Regions from separate parts of the Homo sapiens genome. Here regions 1, 3 and 4 are each reported to be linked to region 2. The links are microRNA targets in miRTarBase. Many come from high-throughput screens and were not tested one by one. Region 2 holds a microRNA gene; each other region holds the end of a gene's coding sequence.
What was found. The annotated mature microRNA hsa-miR-155-5p reads UUAAUGCUAAUCGUGAUAGGGGUU and lies in region 2 at 2,544-2,567, opposite strand. An mRNA with a match to its seed (bases 2 to 7 or 8) in the 3' UTR can be bound and repressed. Matches are read on the target gene's strand: a 7mer-m8 pairs with bases 2 to 8, a 7mer-A1 pairs with bases 2 to 7 and ends in A, and an 8mer does both.

Region 1: the mRNA of INPP5F is a reported target of hsa-miR-155-5p. Seed matches in the 3' UTR shown: 8mer at 3,152-3,159.
Region 3: miRTarBase lists MAT2B as a target of hsa-miR-155-5p. The part of its 3' UTR that is shown has no 7-base or 8-base seed match.
Region 4: miRTarBase lists PICALM as a target of hsa-miR-155-5p. Seed matches in the 3' UTR shown: 7mer-m8 at 2,704-2,710, 7mer-A1 at 2,692-2,698 and 7mer-m8 at 2,607-2,613.

What each region holds. Positions count from the first base shown.
Region 1 is chr10:119,827,495-119,831,562 of GRCh38, reverse strand. It overlaps INPP5F (inositol polyphosphate-5-phosphatase F), which reads right to left. Exons shown (of 20, transcript NM_014937.4): 20 at 2,416-4,068. The coding sequence ends at 3,783. It overlaps MCMBP (minichromosome maintenance complex binding protein), which reads left to right. Exons shown (of 16, transcript NM_001256378.2): 16 at 1-2,123. The coding sequence ends at 89. Among named protein-coding and RNA genes, the nearest start is that of MCMBP, 43 kb to the left of the region's middle.
Region 2 is chr21:25,572,482-25,576,549 of GRCh38, reverse strand. It overlaps MIR155 (microRNA 155), which reads right to left and starts at 2,570; the gene lies at 2,506-2,570. MIR155HG (MIR155 host gene) reads right to left here. Exons shown (of 3, transcript NR_001458.3): 3 at 1,382-2,657. RefSeq lists enhancers at 304-353, 746-895 and a silencer at 2,447-2,626.
Region 3 is chr5:163,517,580-163,521,647 of GRCh38, forward strand. It overlaps MAT2B (methionine adenosyltransferase 2 non-catalytic beta subunit), which reads left to right. Exons shown (of 7, transcript NM_013283.5): 6 at 1-95; 7 at 614-1,775. The coding sequence ends at 784. Among named protein-coding and RNA genes, the nearest start is that of MAT2B, 14 kb to the left of the region's middle.
Region 4 is chr11:85,955,576-85,959,643 of GRCh38, forward strand. PICALM (phosphatidylinositol binding clathrin assembly protein) reads right to left here. Exons shown (of 20, transcript NM_007166.4): 20 at 1,600-3,485. The coding sequence ends at 3,471. Among named protein-coding and RNA genes, the nearest start is that of CCDC83, 100 kb to the left of the region's middle.

The DNA.
Region 1 (4,068 bases), not on the chromosome of region 2:
GAGAACGATGGCTGAGAGCAAAGCAGCTAGAGTCTTTAAGAAGAACGAGGCTTCAGCAGCAAAAATGTGTGAATGGAAATGAACTTTAAAGATGTAATACCTATGAAGAGTAATGGGCAAACTGTAGCCACATAATTGTAAAATTCAGATATTCATTTATACCACATTGTTTTATAGGTAATTTCTATCACAAACCAGTGACATTTCCTGAAATCAAGCCTGGTAACACCTGATGTTTATATGATATTCAGTAAGGACTTTTACCTTACTGATTTCATGGAGCTTTTGAAGTTTGTTTTATAATAATTATATAAATTAGTAATGATGTAAAAAAAGTATTTGATATTAAAAGTTTAATATTGATAATGTTGCTGATTGTACCATTTCCTTAGCTTCAGCTGAGTCATAGGCCAGACTGTTGAAATGCTGAAATGAAGAAGGTTGTTGCAGTTTCAAAGTCAGAGGAATCGTGCTTCGGATTTCTTATGTTTTCTAGTTCTCTGTTTTTCCAGTTCACAGTGGGTTGGGGTGCATTCAGTAGTCCATCTTTGGGGAACGGAGGCGTACTTGCCATTGATTCACATGACTACATGAAATTCTGTACTGTCATTTCCCAGATGTTTGGCCACAGAAACTTTTTCCCACTTAACATTTGTTAACAGCCTGCAAAACTAAACTTGTACATGGCAGTGGTTCCCAGACTTTTGTATTTTATGGACCGGTAGTAATATTTCCAAAAATCTGGGGTACTATAAGGTTGCCAATTTACCTTGCCAAGTAATCCGAATAAATCACTGTATTATCACCATTTTTTTCATAAAAGGAAAGGACAATCTATCTCTGAATAAGAGGAGTCCTTTAAACGGAATGAATGTGGCTTTTGGGGGCAAAAGAAACCAAGACACTACATTGTCTTTATTTTCTCCTATCCCAGTGCATTTGAGAACCATGCATAAGGGAATGCTGTGCTACAAAGCTGTGCCCAAATATGAAAACAAAATAGGAAACTTAAAAAGCAATACCCCCTTTAGAAAGTTTTTATTTTCTTAAATGTCATTGAGTTGCTTTGATTCTATTGGATTTTTGGCATTTTTTATGGGATCATCAGTTGGTTCCAAGTATGTTAGATCAGCTAACATCTGCTACTCCAGTAACAGCCTCGTACAACTGCAGGTAGGTTTTCTCCAGACCAATTAGTTTTAATAGAGCAAACTAACAACAGACTGTAGTAGCATGGTTATGGCAACCAGAATCTTCAGAAAGGTTAGGACATTACTTTTTAAGCTGTCAGTGGTATCAAATAACTTACCTAGTTGGAGGCAGATAAAGGATCCCTTACGTTTTTTCCTATAAGGCCTAAATTGAAATTGTTAACCAAGGAAACAGGGTCAGCCTTGAAAAATCAAGGAATTCATTGTACCTAATAACTGAAGTAAAAATAACTAGTTGTTCAACTTTTCCTAAACTCAAATCTATTTTTATAAACAAATGTAAATAATGTTTATATTAGAGTTGAACTGGTTTTCATTTTTATAACTGGTAGACTAGACCTTCCTTAAACTTTTAGAAATAAAATGAAGGCTTCACTGGATTTGTGAGGATAAAATACATTTTCTTTAATTGTCCTAGAGCAAAGTACATTAGTCACCATGTGTTTTTTGTGCCAATGTAAATTGTAATTTACCAAAGAAAAATACATACATTGCTTGGTCTTGCAGAAAAGTTCCCTTGAAAGAACCTTTCCAATAAATAAAACGTCCCAAATTAGCAGTACCTTGGGCTGTTTTTCATGAGTAAGAAGATTCACCATCCCATGTGATCTGTGTGGAAAAAGACCATGTCCTCTTGGTGGAAGACATGAGAGAGCTGAACTGAAGTGGAGGAGGTGGTGCAAGAGGGACCTTCCTGCTCAAGGCCCGCCCAGGCAGCGGAATGGAGTGCAGTGCTTGGCTGCAGAAACCCTTTGTCCCTCACCTATATATACACGGACAGTCAAGTTTGTTGCTCTAACGTAAGGCACAGCGTTAATCCTGTATGGCCAGGAAACTGAGTAGACTCCTGTGTAACCCTGTTTGGAACTTTGCCTTCTTAAAATGATTTTTCAAAGATCTCTTTCGAACTAATTTCTGTAGAGTTTAAACGTGTATTTTATCACCTAATGTTGGGTTGTATTTTCTCCCATGTTGGGAACCCTTAATATTTTCAGGACCCGGAAGAAAAGTTGGTAGAAGCAAGCATTCAGTTTTGAATGTTTGGATTTAAAGTATAGTTTCTGATCCATTTCCCTTTTTACATCATGAGTATATTTCAAAGGAGTAACATACTGGCAACAGCTAGACCAAGTGTTCAGTTATAGCAAATCTGCCGTTTACAAATTCTTTAATCTGTTATGCAAGGAATTCTCATACCCATTTGTCACTTTAAATTACAATGGTACTTTATTTTAATAATCACAAGATTTAACACGTAAAAAAAAAAGATAGCACTAATAAATAACAAAAGTGGAATGCTTATCAAAGTAACGACATAATGTTCAGTTGAGAATCAGTCACTTCAACAGAGTAAAGCTCTAAAGACACCAGACGAACCAATACTTGTTGGAATATGCCATACAACTTTCTTACTGTGGGGATTACAGGGGCAGCCCTGGTTCTGTGTGGTCAGAGTTATAGTCAGACAGATTCAGCACAATTGTGTTTCAGACTAAATTGTTTTTGAGACACGGTCTTGCTCTGTCCCCCAGGCTGGAGGTCAGTGGCACGATCACAGCTCACTGCAGCCTCAATCTCATGGGCTCAAGCAATCCTCCTGCGTAGCTAGAAACACAGGCATGCACCACTATGCCCAGCTAATTTTTGTATTTTTTTGTAGAGACAGATGTTTCCCAGGCTGGTCTCAAAACTCCTGGCCTCCCAAAGTGTTGGGATTATAGGTGTGAGCCACTGCACTAGGCCCAGACTAAATTTTGAAGTTGTGGATCATCTACATAAGATGTCGAGGATGCCCCTCCTGGAATAAATTAAAACCTGACTGACTTCTAGAATTTCCAGTAGCCAATATGGGTGTTCTTACATTCCTGAAAACAGCAAAATGAAACCTAATAGGTGCTGGTATTCACCTCTGATGTATCAGGTTTACTGTGTGACAAGTCTTAATGCTCCTAGGTTTACATTGTATAGGCAGCAGAGTATTTTTAATGTGTTCAAGTAGAATACGGGGAAAATTAGGATCAAATGAGAATTCATTTCTCTAGTGTCAATAACCCTCAACTCCTCAGGGAACAGTTAAGCCATCAAAACTAAAATAGCTTTATATTCAAATGCTTCAGTAACATGTTAAAGTCACTAAAAACTAAATGTGTAATTTACTTTGTAGAGGTAAGAACACACAGGAATGAACTGACAAACAGAACAAATTATGAAAAACGCTAATCCCCTAAGCATCTGCATGTCCAGCCCTTGTGTCTACTGTAGTCTACCCACCCCACTCCAAAAAAAGGTTCAGGTTATATCCCAAAGTGACCTGTTGCTGAATTACTTTCAAATAAGCAAAGTGCTCTGTAGTGTATAAGCTACTCAGGTCTACACATTCTAGAATGATGCACTTCTGTAGTCCTGGCTGTAAAATTTGGAAATCTACTCAGGTTCCGACTCCGTTTAAAACCCTTTCCAATGAACAGAATTTGTGATCCCTGGGTTCAGACAGTACAATTAAAATACCCCAAGAGGTGAAAATTTCATATTTTTAAATAAAAGCCATGGAAGGATTCTTATGGCTAAAAGCTAAATCTGAATTATCCGTGTCTGGCATTGTATAAACATCTTTTTAAGTTCATTTTGCTGGACTTGATTAATGATTTCAGGTTCTGGAGGACTCTTCTGAACTTTTGACACTGCAAAGTTTATCCCATGGGTTAATCCAGCTTGGGTAATACTAGCAACCTGGACCATGGAACTTCGAATCTTGGCAAAGGGAGAGACTGCTCTGCTGCTACTGCTCTCTGAAGGAGAAGGAGTTACATGAAGCCCTGTCTCAAGTTCAAGCATGCTGGAAGCGGAGGTGGGGGTT
Region 2 (4,068 bases):
TTGTAACTTAAACACAAACGCGCGCGCACACACACACACACACACACACACACACACACACACATATACATATATATACCTTGTTACTTACCCCTTCCTCCAATCCAAACACAGACTCAGTCTTGCTCATGCTCCAAGAATTTTTGTAATGACTGGTCAGGAGGAATCCCTCTAAGATGAGGAGATAGGCAGTCAGAAGCCTAGGTGGGCTGGGCGTGAGAGAAAACCCAGGAACCCTGGTTCTTTGGGTCGTCACCACGGGATTGATTATAGTTAGTTTGGAGCTAGAGTGTCTTTGGGGAGATCTGCTATGGTAGATCATTTGATTTAAATGACTGAAATGTAAAAGTTTGAAAGTTTGTGTTTAACACTTAATGCATAATAGACATTGTGCTTTTCACATGCATGATTTCATTTAAGCCTACATCTTATGAAATATGAAATATATTCATCATTTTATTGATGAAGAAATTGAGGCTTAGAGGAAGATTAAGTAACTTTCCAAAGCTTCATGTGAGTGTACCCAAATGCTCTTCAAATAAGGCATTTCCCAGCACAGCTTTTCTTTAAGTGCCTTTGTAATGTTTATAGCTTTTTATTGTAACAGCAGGAAGGTTATACTACAATAGTTTATTCCAGTCCTAATGTTCTATGACTTTGTGTCTTTAGGCAGCAAGCAGGATTTTGAAGAACTGGGACTCAAAGCAAGGAGTCCTCTTGTAGATATACAGTGGCAGATAAAATGAATTGAACAGACACTTTTTTTTTTTTTTGAGATGGAGTCTCACTCTGTCACCCAGGCTGGAGGGCAGTGGCACGATCTTCGTTCACTGTGAACTCCACCTCCTGGGTTCAAGTGATTCTTCTGCCCCAGCCTCCTGAGTATCTGGGATTACAGGCACGCACCACCATGCCTAGCTAATTTTTGTATTTTTAGTAGAGACGAGGTTTCACTATGTTGGCCAGGGTAGTGTAGAACTCCTGACCTCAAGTGAACCACCCGCCTTGGCCTCCCAAAGTGTTGGAATTATAGGCGTGAGCCACTGTGCCTGGCCTGAAGAAACACTCTTGAATGTGTTCTACCTACATGGGAGCTCCGTGGAGCCACAAGCTCATTCCAGGTGTTAGGAGAAGAAATTTGTGTTGGCAGCACATACAACTTGAACAGAAAGTGAGGAGAAGAAATTTGTCTTGGCAGCACATACAACTTGAACAGAAAGTGGGGCAAAGCCAAATGGGTATTCTTACATGAGAATACTGTGTCCTAGGAGTCAGGAATGTTCCCTTTAGTGTCCTCATAATTTTCTTCCATTGTCTTTTTTTGGCAGATAGCTTCTGGAATTATAATTTGTACTTTGCAAAAGAAAATGGGCCATAAAAATTATTTTAAATCAACTAAAGACTCATGAGATTTATTTGGTTACAGTGAATAACCTGGACAAAATGTTGAGAAGAGTTGTTAAAACAAGTTTACATTAAATATACTAACAATTACGTTTGGTTACATATTTGTAAGTGATGGTTATTTAGAAAAACTGCATAGAAATCCAAACCTTAAATATTCTGCAAATCAAATCATTAGCTTTTCTCTTCTCTAATAAAGTAGGGTGACTAGTTCTTGGATTAATCTAACTATAACATTAATGTAGCACTTGATTATCTTATGGAATAATTCTCTATCTCATCTAAGCCTCACAACAACCTTGTAAAGTATTATCCCCATATGGAGGAAGAAACAGGCTTAGAAGTGGAAAGGTAGATTCTCTGCTCGCACAACCGTATTATGTGGCTAAGCTATTGAACTTGAACCTAGATTTGGGACTTCATTTCAAATATGAAATTTTTTGATTAAATCTTTTTATCTTGTATGGAAAAAATATCTCATTAGCTGTCAGATGTTATTTACCCTGCTAACTGTTAAAAATATTTCATTAAAAAAATTCAGCTTCATAGCCTTTCAGTTTCCCTTTAAGAGTCAAATAAAAGTATTAATTTTAAACTGAAGTTGCCTGAACAGAAAATCGTTACCTGGGGGAAAGTACCAGTTTCTAAATCTTTTAAAAAACGTTGCCAGACAATCCATGATATAACTGGAGGTTAGTAGTCCTTCTAATTTTTAACTACAAAAATATTATAGAAATTTGTGTTTAGCCCACATTTCTAACAGTTGAATCAAAGGTGTTTATGAACATTATAATGAACAAGCCAAAACCTGCAATTAAGAATGACATGAATATATTTTCTGTTAATGATAAAAACAAACATGGGCTTGACATTTAAATGAAAATGTTTGCATTTAGGATACTACTGATAAATCTTTTAAATAACCTTACTTTCAAAACTTAGTTTAAGGTTGAACATCCCAGTGACCAGATTATGATTAACAGATTGAAAAATGATAAAGCCTGAAGTCTAAGTTTATCCAGCAGGGTGACTCATGCTTCTTTGTCATCCTCCCACGGCAGCAATTTGTTCCATGTGAATGCTAGTAACAGGCATCATACACTGTTAATGCTAATATGTAGGAGTCAGTTGGAGGCAAAAACCCCTATCACGATTAGCATTAACAGCATACAGCCTACAGCAAGCCTTCAGCACTCAGAGGATGAGGCATAAAGAATTTAAACCACAGATTTCCCCTTCCTGGTTTGTGCCACCTGCAAGAGAGAAAGAAATGTTTGTGTATGCACATGCGGTTATAAAGCTGGAGTGACAGCATATAGTAAATCTGAAAGGAAAATAGTCCATTTTCTGTTGAAAGGAAGGAGCTCATTAAATCCTTGGAAGTAATTTTTTGAAAGTGGTAGAGAAATTGGCAATTAAAAGATGACATTGTTACCTTTAGGCATATTTGAAGACTTTGAAAATTATGTTTTAAATTCTATTCTCTAGTTTTGAATCGGGTACACATATGTATCATCTTCTTTAAATAAAAAACAAAAACCGCTCTTCGGAGTTTTCAAATGCCAAAATGCAAAGAGGAAAGCTTGCATTCTGACACAGTACAGTTTTTTTTTTTTCTGATTTGTACTTCATCTAGGAGCTAGACAATTAAAGGCCCAAATGTTCAAAATAGTCCTTTATGATTTATGAAAATTAAAACCCAATTAACCTGTTTTATAAGGGTAGGGTTCAGGCTGAATTTTTCTTTCTGTAATACATAGTTGAAGTTTTACCTTTATTCTTTCAGGAAATGTGATACAAGCAATGGAGGTTTGCCTACAAACGAATCTATCTGAAAATGTCCCCGTCTACTATTTAGAGATTCCTTTGGGGAAAGCACTACCCAGTGGCTTTGGTTTTGACTACATAAAGGAAGTATGACTTAAAGAGTCCTCTGTGTTTCAAACTACTTGTCTTAGGCAGAGGGTTGATTAAAAAAAAGAACAAGATGAATTTGCTACTTCCTTTTAGAGTCTGATTTTACTCTCTCAGATAAAGTGACATTTCTCCCACAGGTTTCTGATTTCAGTGTTACTATAACAGAACCTAGAAGTTAGAGTATCATTCAAGTATGTGGTCTCCTGCAGTACAAGAGGGGAATCACCTTTTCTTTTATTTAATAATGAAACCAGCTAGATATAAAAATGTGACTAAGTTCAAAAGAAACGTATGAAGTAAAAAATTCCCCAGTGAATATATTTTGACAGGGCAGAATATCGTGGTTTGGAAATTTCCAAACCAAGGAAATATATTATTCTTACTGATAGTATTTTTTTTTAAACTTTACTGTTTTCTGAGATGAATTAGTTGATGATGAAAAAATTTGGGTTAAATGATGTCACTTCAGGAATTCAATTCATTTTACAGAATTTCAGTCAATAAAGATTGTAAAAACAAGGACTTTTTTTCCCCCTTACAGGGTCCTGGACACAGTAAATGCTCAATAAATACATATTAATAATGTAGTGTTAGTGCCACCCCAGCCAATATAACTCGCCCTTTTCTTAAAAGATGTGTTTAATTTGTATTGAAGGTAAATTGCTGGCATACTATTCTACCCATAAATTTTATTCCTGTTCTTTAAAGATAACATATGAGCACAGGTATTAAAATAAATATATTTAG
Region 3 (4,068 bases), not on the chromosome of region 2:
CCTTTCACTGGTCTGGCAATGAACAGATGACTAAGTATGAAATGGCATGTGCAATTGCAGATGCCTTCAACCTCCCCAGCAGTCACTTAAGACCTGTAAGTACATGGCTGTAAAAACCTTTAGATCCATTGCTATGGTATATATTATTGCTGTGTTGGGTAACTTCATTTCTCAGTACTAATCAAAGTGAACTTTGCTTGTATGCTGGCTGTTCATAGTGCTACTTTTCTCTAAATTATCATCTGTAGAGAAGATCATGAGTATTGAAGTTTGTAGAAAATGTATTATTGTCTTGATCATGACAGGCATTTGGTTTATTTTTCCAGGGATGATCAAATCAGATTTCTTACACTAAGAGCAAAAATAAGTAGCAAATATAAAACCTCAAAATGGCCAGGCACAATGGCTCATGCCTGTAATCCCAACACTTTGGGAGGCTGACGCAGGAGGATCCCTTGAGCCCAGGAATTTGAGACTAGCCTGGGCAATGGAGGGAGATCTCATCTCTGTTTAAAAATATATACATATTTAAAAAAAGGTCAGGGGGAACAAAGCCCTCAAAATATAGCCTTTCACTTACTTTTGATTTTTTTGTGTTTATCTTTCTTTAAAGATTACTGACAGCCCTGTCCTAGGAGCACAACGTCCGAGAAATGCTCAGCTTGACTGCTCCAAATTGGAGACCTTGGGCATTGGCCAACGAACACCATTTCGAATTGGAATCAAAGAATCACTTTGGCCTTTCCTCATTGACAAGAGATGGAGACAAACGGTCTTTCATTAGTTTATTTGTGTTGGGTTCTTTTTTTTTTTTAAATGAAAAGTATAGTATGTGGCACTTTTTAAAGAACAAAGGAAATAGTTTTGTATGAGTACTTTAATTGTGACTCTTAGGATCTTTCAGGTAAATGATGCTCTTGCACTAGTGAAATTGTCTAAAGAAACTAAAGGGCAGTCATGCCCTGTTTGCAGTAATTTTTCTTTTTATCATTTTGTTTGTCCTGGCTAAACTTGGAGTTTGAGTATAGTAAATTATGATCCTTAAATATTTGAGAGTCAGGATGAAGCAGATCTGCTGTAGACTTTTCAGATGAAATTGTTCATTCTCGTAACCTCCATATTTTCAGGATTTTTGAAGCTGTTGACCTTTTCATGTTGATTATTTTAAATTGTGTGAAATAGTATAAAAATCATTGGTGTTCATTATTTGCTTTGCCTGAGCTCAGATCAAAATGTTTGAAGAAAGGAACTTTATTTTTGCAAGTTACGTACAGTTTTTATGCTTGAGATATTTCAACATGTTATGTATATTGGAACTTCTACAGCTTGATGCCTCCTGCTTTTATAGCAGTTTATGGGGAGCACTTGAAAGAGCGTGTGTACATGTATTTTTTTTCTAGGCAAACATTGAATGCAAACGTGTATTTTTTTAATATAAATATATAACTGTCCTTTTCATCCCATGTTGCCGCTAAGTGATATTTCATATGTGTGGTTATACTCATAATAATGGGCCTTGTAAGTCTTTTCACCATTCATGAATAATAATAAATATGTACTGCTGGCATGTAATGCTTAGTTTTCTTGTATTTACTTCTTTTTTTAAATGTAAGGACCAAACTTCTAAACTAATTGTTCTTTTGTTGCTTTAATTTTTAAAAATTACATTCTTCTGATGTAACATGTGATACATACAAAAGAATATAGTTTAATATGTATTGAAATAAAACACAATAAAATTAACACTTGATCCAGAATGTTAACTTACCACCCCATCCTAGAATGTTACAGTTACTGTATCTATTTGTGGGAACGGATTTGTTTTTAACTAAAAATTAATAGCTATATAATCTTGTTACATTATACAGTTGACCCTTGAACGGTGTGGGTTTGGGGTATCAACCTTGCACAGTCTAAAATCCACTATAACTCTGGACTCCCCAAATACTTAATTAGTAAAAACCTGCTGTTGACCAGAAGCCTTACTGATAAACATAGTCATTTAACATATTTCTATCTTCTGTGTATTACATACTGTATTCTTAAAGTAGCCTAGAGAAAAGAAAATATTATTAAGAAAATCTCAAGGAAGGGAAAATATATTTACTATTCATTAAGTGGAAGTAGATTATCATAAAGTTTTTTTTTTTTTTTTTTAGACAAGGTCTCGCTCTGTCGCATAGGCTGGGGTACAGTGGTGCATTCTCAGCTCACTGCAACCTCCGCCTCCTGGGTTCAAGCAATTCTCCTCCCTCAGCCACTCGAGTAGCTGGGATTACAGGCACCCGCCACCACGCCCAGCTGAGTTTTGTATTTTTAGTAGAAATGAGGTTTTGTCATGTTGGCTAGGCTGGTCTCAAACTCCTGCCCTCAAGCAGTCCACCCTCCTCGGCCTCCCAAAGTGCTGGCACTACAGGCGTGAGCCACTGCACCTGGCCTGGATCATAATCAAGTTCTTTATTCTTATCTTCATGTTGAGTAGGCTGAGGAAATTAACTGGGGAAATTTTACTGATACCTGAGTCCTACCCTGGGCTTACTGAAATAAATTTTGGGAATTGAGGCCTATTAATTTATTTTTAAATGTTTCCCAGGTGGTTCTAAGGTTGCCAGTCTGGCATTGCATTTGGCAACCACTAAATTAAAGCATTTTGTTTTATATTTTAAGTTACTACATTTCATATAGTGCATAATTAAGTTTCGGAGAGTAAAAAGTGTTGTTATTCTCTAGCCACCCGTTTTTCAACTGTGGAAGAAATGGATGTAGATCAGTTCCTTGCATATGTTTCTAGAGGCACTCTGCATATAGAAGAATATAATCAAAAAACTCACGTGTCCATACTCTCACCATCCGCCCTCACAAAGAATAACATACAATTCTCTGACCTTTTTTTCATTTGGAATTTGTTGTATAATATAAATAATGTCCTTTTTTTTTTTTTTTTTTTTTTTTGAGACGGAGTCTTGCGCTGTTGTCAGGCTGGAGTGCAGCGGTGTGATCTCGGCTCGCTGCAACCTCCGACTCCCTGGTTCAAGCGATTCTCCTGCCTCAGCCTCCCAAGTAGCTAGGATTATAGGCAGCGCCACTACACCCAGCTAATTTTTGTATGTTTAGTAGAGATGGGGTTTCACCATGTTGGCCAGGATGGTCTCGATCTCCTGACCTCGTGAGCTGCGCACCTCAGTCTCCCAAAGTGCTGGGATTACAGGTATGAGCCACCGTGCCTGGCCAAAAATGTCCTTTTTAAAAATCTTCATTTAAAAATTTCATTATTTGCCATGATAGCATAAATAATGCCTGTATTTCCCTTTCCAGATTCCCCAGTTGTCAGCATTTAGCACATTTACCCTATCATTTTCATGCACACTACATATGTATACTATTTTTATTTCCTGAACTATTGAAGAGTAGGTTGAAGATACGATGCTTCATCACCCACTTAGTATATAAACCTCAGTGTATATTTTCTAAAAATAAGGATACATGCCTATATACCCTGTAATATAATCACAATCAAGAAATTACCATTCAATTTCATAAGATCCCATTCAGATTTCATCAGTTGTTCCAGTTTCCTTTATAGGTCTATGCAGTCCAAGATTACTTGTGTGTGTCGCCATGTTGCTTTAGCTTCAATATGGAACAGTTCCTCAGTGTTTGTCTTTCATGAGCTTGATATTTTTGACATTTCTCTGTATAAGAAACCATAAGTTGACATCGATAGCTCCAGTTACAGTCTTGTTCCACAGGGTTTATTTTGGCTCTTCCCATGTTTGTGGCACCTTTCTCTGACAGCAACCGAATTCTCAGTTCTTTTTTTTGAGACAGGGTGTCACTCTCACCCAGGCTGGAGTGCAGTGGCACAATCTCAGCTCACTGCAGCCTCCACCTCCTGGGTTCAAGTGATTCTCCCACCTCAGCCTCCTGAGTAGCTGGGACTACAGGCATGTACCACCATACCCAGCTAATTTTTGTATTTTTAGTTTCACTATGTTGCCTAGGCTGCTCTCAAAGTCTTGAGCTCAAGCGATCCACTCACCTTGGTCTCCCAAAGTGCTGGGACTACAG
Region 4 (4,068 bases), not on the chromosome of region 2:
TTTGGATTGGTGATACTTCAAATAGGACATTACTTCTTAGTAACAGCAAGAAATCAGCTTAATGTTTTCAGCAAGAGACAGCATGGATGATAATGCAGCCTTTCTTTTCCGAAACTTCAGACAGCAGAATTCCAGAAGGGCTAGTCACACCCATGGAAGGCAGCAAGTGTGGCAGAACAAAGATCTAAGCTGACTGCAGAGGCCACTGATGAAAGCTGTGAAATATCTTTCCTGGAAGGCAAGAATAAATTCATCTGGCTTACTACTGTGGTGTCTCCATACATTGTGACCTAGTCACTGCTAGCACACAGGAGCCACACTCACTCTTAAGAGAGATTTTTTTTCTCTGTGGAATTTTGTAGAATAAGCAAACAGAGTTTGGAAGCGTGTTTGTGAGTTACGATAAATGAGAAGAACCTTGAAATTATTTTTAGTTCAAGAAAAACATCCCATTAAGGCCTATTTCTCATAAGTCACATTTTGTTGGCTTCTGGAAAAGCAGAAGATTCCTAGGCTAACATAAGGAAGTCCTCTTCCTAAATATGTATTCTCATAGTCACTTGTTAAGAAAGGGATACCTTTTAAAAAATGCTGAATGCTGATAGATGTTAAATCAAAGGCAAATAATTTTGAAAACGATTTGGGACAGGTACAGTTGTCCTCTGCTTACAATCTTCTCTCTTATCTCAGCCAATAGCTACTTGCTAACTGGATAGTAAAATGACATGAGCATGTATGAGTTTACAGCCTGATGTAATTATGTAATCAATAGCTGATTTACTTCACTCATTATATTTTGGTTAAAGTTGCTCTTGTCGCATGTTTGCATTCTTCCTTGTCAACGATGTCTGGGCATCAGAGGAGGAGGCAGGAAATGTACTTCACTAAAGACCACTGGGAATAAAGAGTGGCCATCAGTCTAGATTGCAGAGGGAAACAATCTCCATGTCAGTATATATATATGAATTACGTGACAGCAGGTCACAGAGAGAACAATGGACCATGAAAGCAAAGATTTGATTTCCATCTGTTAACTTACTCATCTGGGCAAGTTCCTTTTTTTTTTAAACAGGGTCTCACTCTGTCACCCAGGGTGGAGTATGCAGTGGCATGATCCCAGCTCACTGCAGCCTCAACATCCTGGACTCGGGTGATCCTACCACTTCAGTCTCCCAAGTAGCTGGGACTATAGGCATATACCTGGCTAATTTTTGTATTTTTGGTACAGATAGCGTTTCACCATGTTGCCCAGGCTGGTCTTGAACTCCTGGGCTCAAGTGATCATGTACCTCAGCCTCCCAAATTACTGGAATAACAGGTGTGAGCCACTGCACCCAGCTCCTTTTCTGATTTCTGATTCCTACATATAAAATGGGTAAAATATGGATAACACTTATCAAACATAGCCCAAAAGTTGTTTAAACAATGAAATAAAAATGGCTATGAAGCACGTCACATACTGAAACATACTTAAAAAAAAAAAGGCAATATGAAAGAAAACAAGCCACAGACCTTAAATATAAACACCTCCTCAAACACCACAAGAGACAAAAATTTGTAAAGTTAAGGAGGGTAACTTATAAAAGTACAACTTCCCAGTTTATATGAAAATGGTTTAATAATACTGAAACTTAAAAGCTGATAAAATTTATTGGCTACGACTACATTTTTTCTCCAATCACAGCAAATATTATGAGACACTTATCAATGCAAAGCTTTTGATCCTTTATCATGTACTCTGAACCCTATGCACTACTAAATAGGCAATATGATACAATCAAAGGTTTCTTTGGCAGACATAATTATATGTACCAAAACATTAAACTGCGTATTTTCCCTTAAACTTACCTGACTAAAGGCATCTGATCAAAAGACAAAAAGTGAACAATTTTAATAAGTAGTTGCATTTATCAATAAGAGTCTACAAGGTAACAAAAAGTGTAAAGAGACATCTTTTTGAAAATTCATATAAAACAAACCTTCCATGTTATTAGATCAACAAATATAATCACCTGGGTATATTTTATTAGGGAAAAATGACAATATTGATAATAAAAAGAGAAAGGAAAAATGAAAATGCATCTCAGACCAGAATACCATAACAAAACTTTTGTGGAAGCTGCATTTTATTTGAAAATCCACCCATTTTGCTAACATACATTTTAATATTGTAAACAAAAATAGAATCTGCAGAGACAATGCAACAAGAATGCTTAAACTCATGTACAGAATTGCTTTCCTACAATGAACTGTCCTTCTTAAGGCCCCTCTCCACCCAAATGTTAAAGATGTATTTACACAAAGCACCGATCAACAGTGCAGTTTAATTCTTCGTTTACTAAACTCTTGGCTAGACATTAACTTTAAAGATACTATTTCCCCTTATTTAAAAGGTATATGATCATAACATGGCACGAGCCAAAGAAAATGTTCAAGGACTTTGCCCCCCTTCCCTCCCCCTTGTAACACCTTCTAGAGTTTTAGTGAAAAGAAGGAAAGTCTTGAAGTGAAAGCAATTCCTCACATTCATTTTGGAAAGGCCCTAATGTCAAATGGAAAATAATGACATGCCAAGCACAAAGCAGTAAAGATCCTTCCCAATGCACTAATGCTGAATTTAAAATGTAGTGCTTTTCCTAGTCAGTGAACTGTTCCCTGGCAAAATCCTAGGCACAGAATTGACTATAAGGATTAATGCATTTATAATGCTTCCCTAAATCCCACAGAGGCCGAGAATTCTTAAGAGATTCAGACCTATGGACTTGCCTTAAAATATTTAGTGCTCTGTATGTCAGCTGAGAAAAGCATTCTGAATCAGATTCATTCTTGTGGATAAAAATCAAACATACTGTGCACATCCATACTCATTTTCATAAGGAGGTCTGATACAATATTAATGTTATGTAAAATTGATAATCATAAATAAATACAAATACTTAAGGAATGTCTACTGCAAACTGAATATAATTTTTTTTAAAAAAAGAAAAGTTAATTTCAGTTATTGTTTCTGTATTTGTGAGGACTGGAGAAAAGAAAGATAATGCATAATTAGGAATTTTAATTTTGATCCCCCAAAAGAGTCCTGTTGAAATACAGTAAAGGACACAGTTCTTCTCTCCAGGCAGCTTTTCCAAATACAAATTTCACACTTTCCAAATAAGGGCTTTTCTTGATAGGTTACTGATTATGGGTATTAACAGGAGTTGAAAGAATTGAAGGGTTAGTCACCAAAAAGACAGATCTTAGTCTTAAATCATAGCAATTCTTGGCTTTATAAACTGTATTGATACGTTCTCCTATAAACTAGTCCCAATTTCCTTCATGGGCCTTCACTGAGTTACTTGTAGCATTCTAATGGAAGAAGAGAGTTTAAGAGATTTAAGAGACAGCAGTTTGGATTTTGCTGGAAGTAAGGATTTTGCTGCTTGAGCACTTGTCTTTTTGGAGTAATTCCATTTTCTTCCATCAAGTTACATAAACTGTATCTGGAAAAAAAAAGTGGGTATGTTAATTCATTGTATTGTAGGATGTCTTCTCATAAATAAAAATGCTTTGTGGTCTTTACCATTTAACTGGCCCAGAAGTGTTCACAACATGCTTATCACAAACCCTGTTTATAAAACAAAGTCAGTATTATCAACTTATGTGCCAGAAAGCTCAATATTTGACACATATAGGGACTTCCAAATAATGTTTTTTGTTGTTGTTTTTGAGACAGAGTCTTGCTCTGCTGTCTAGGCTGGATTGCAGTGGCATGATCAAAGCTCAATGGCTGGGCACCATAGCTCACACCTGTAATCCCAGCACTCTGGGAGGCTGAGGTGGGCAGATCACCTGAGGTGAGTTCGAGAGTTCGAGACTGGCCTGGCCAATATGGTGAAACCCCGTCTCTACTAAAAATACAAAAATTAGCCAGGCGTGGTGGCGGGCGCCTGTAATCCTAGCTACTCGGGAGGCTGAGGCAGGAGAATGGCTTGAACCCAGGAGGTGGAGGTTGCAGTGAGCTGAGATCGTGCCACTGCACTCCAGCCTGGGAGACAAGAGCGAAACTCCATCTCAAAAAAAAAA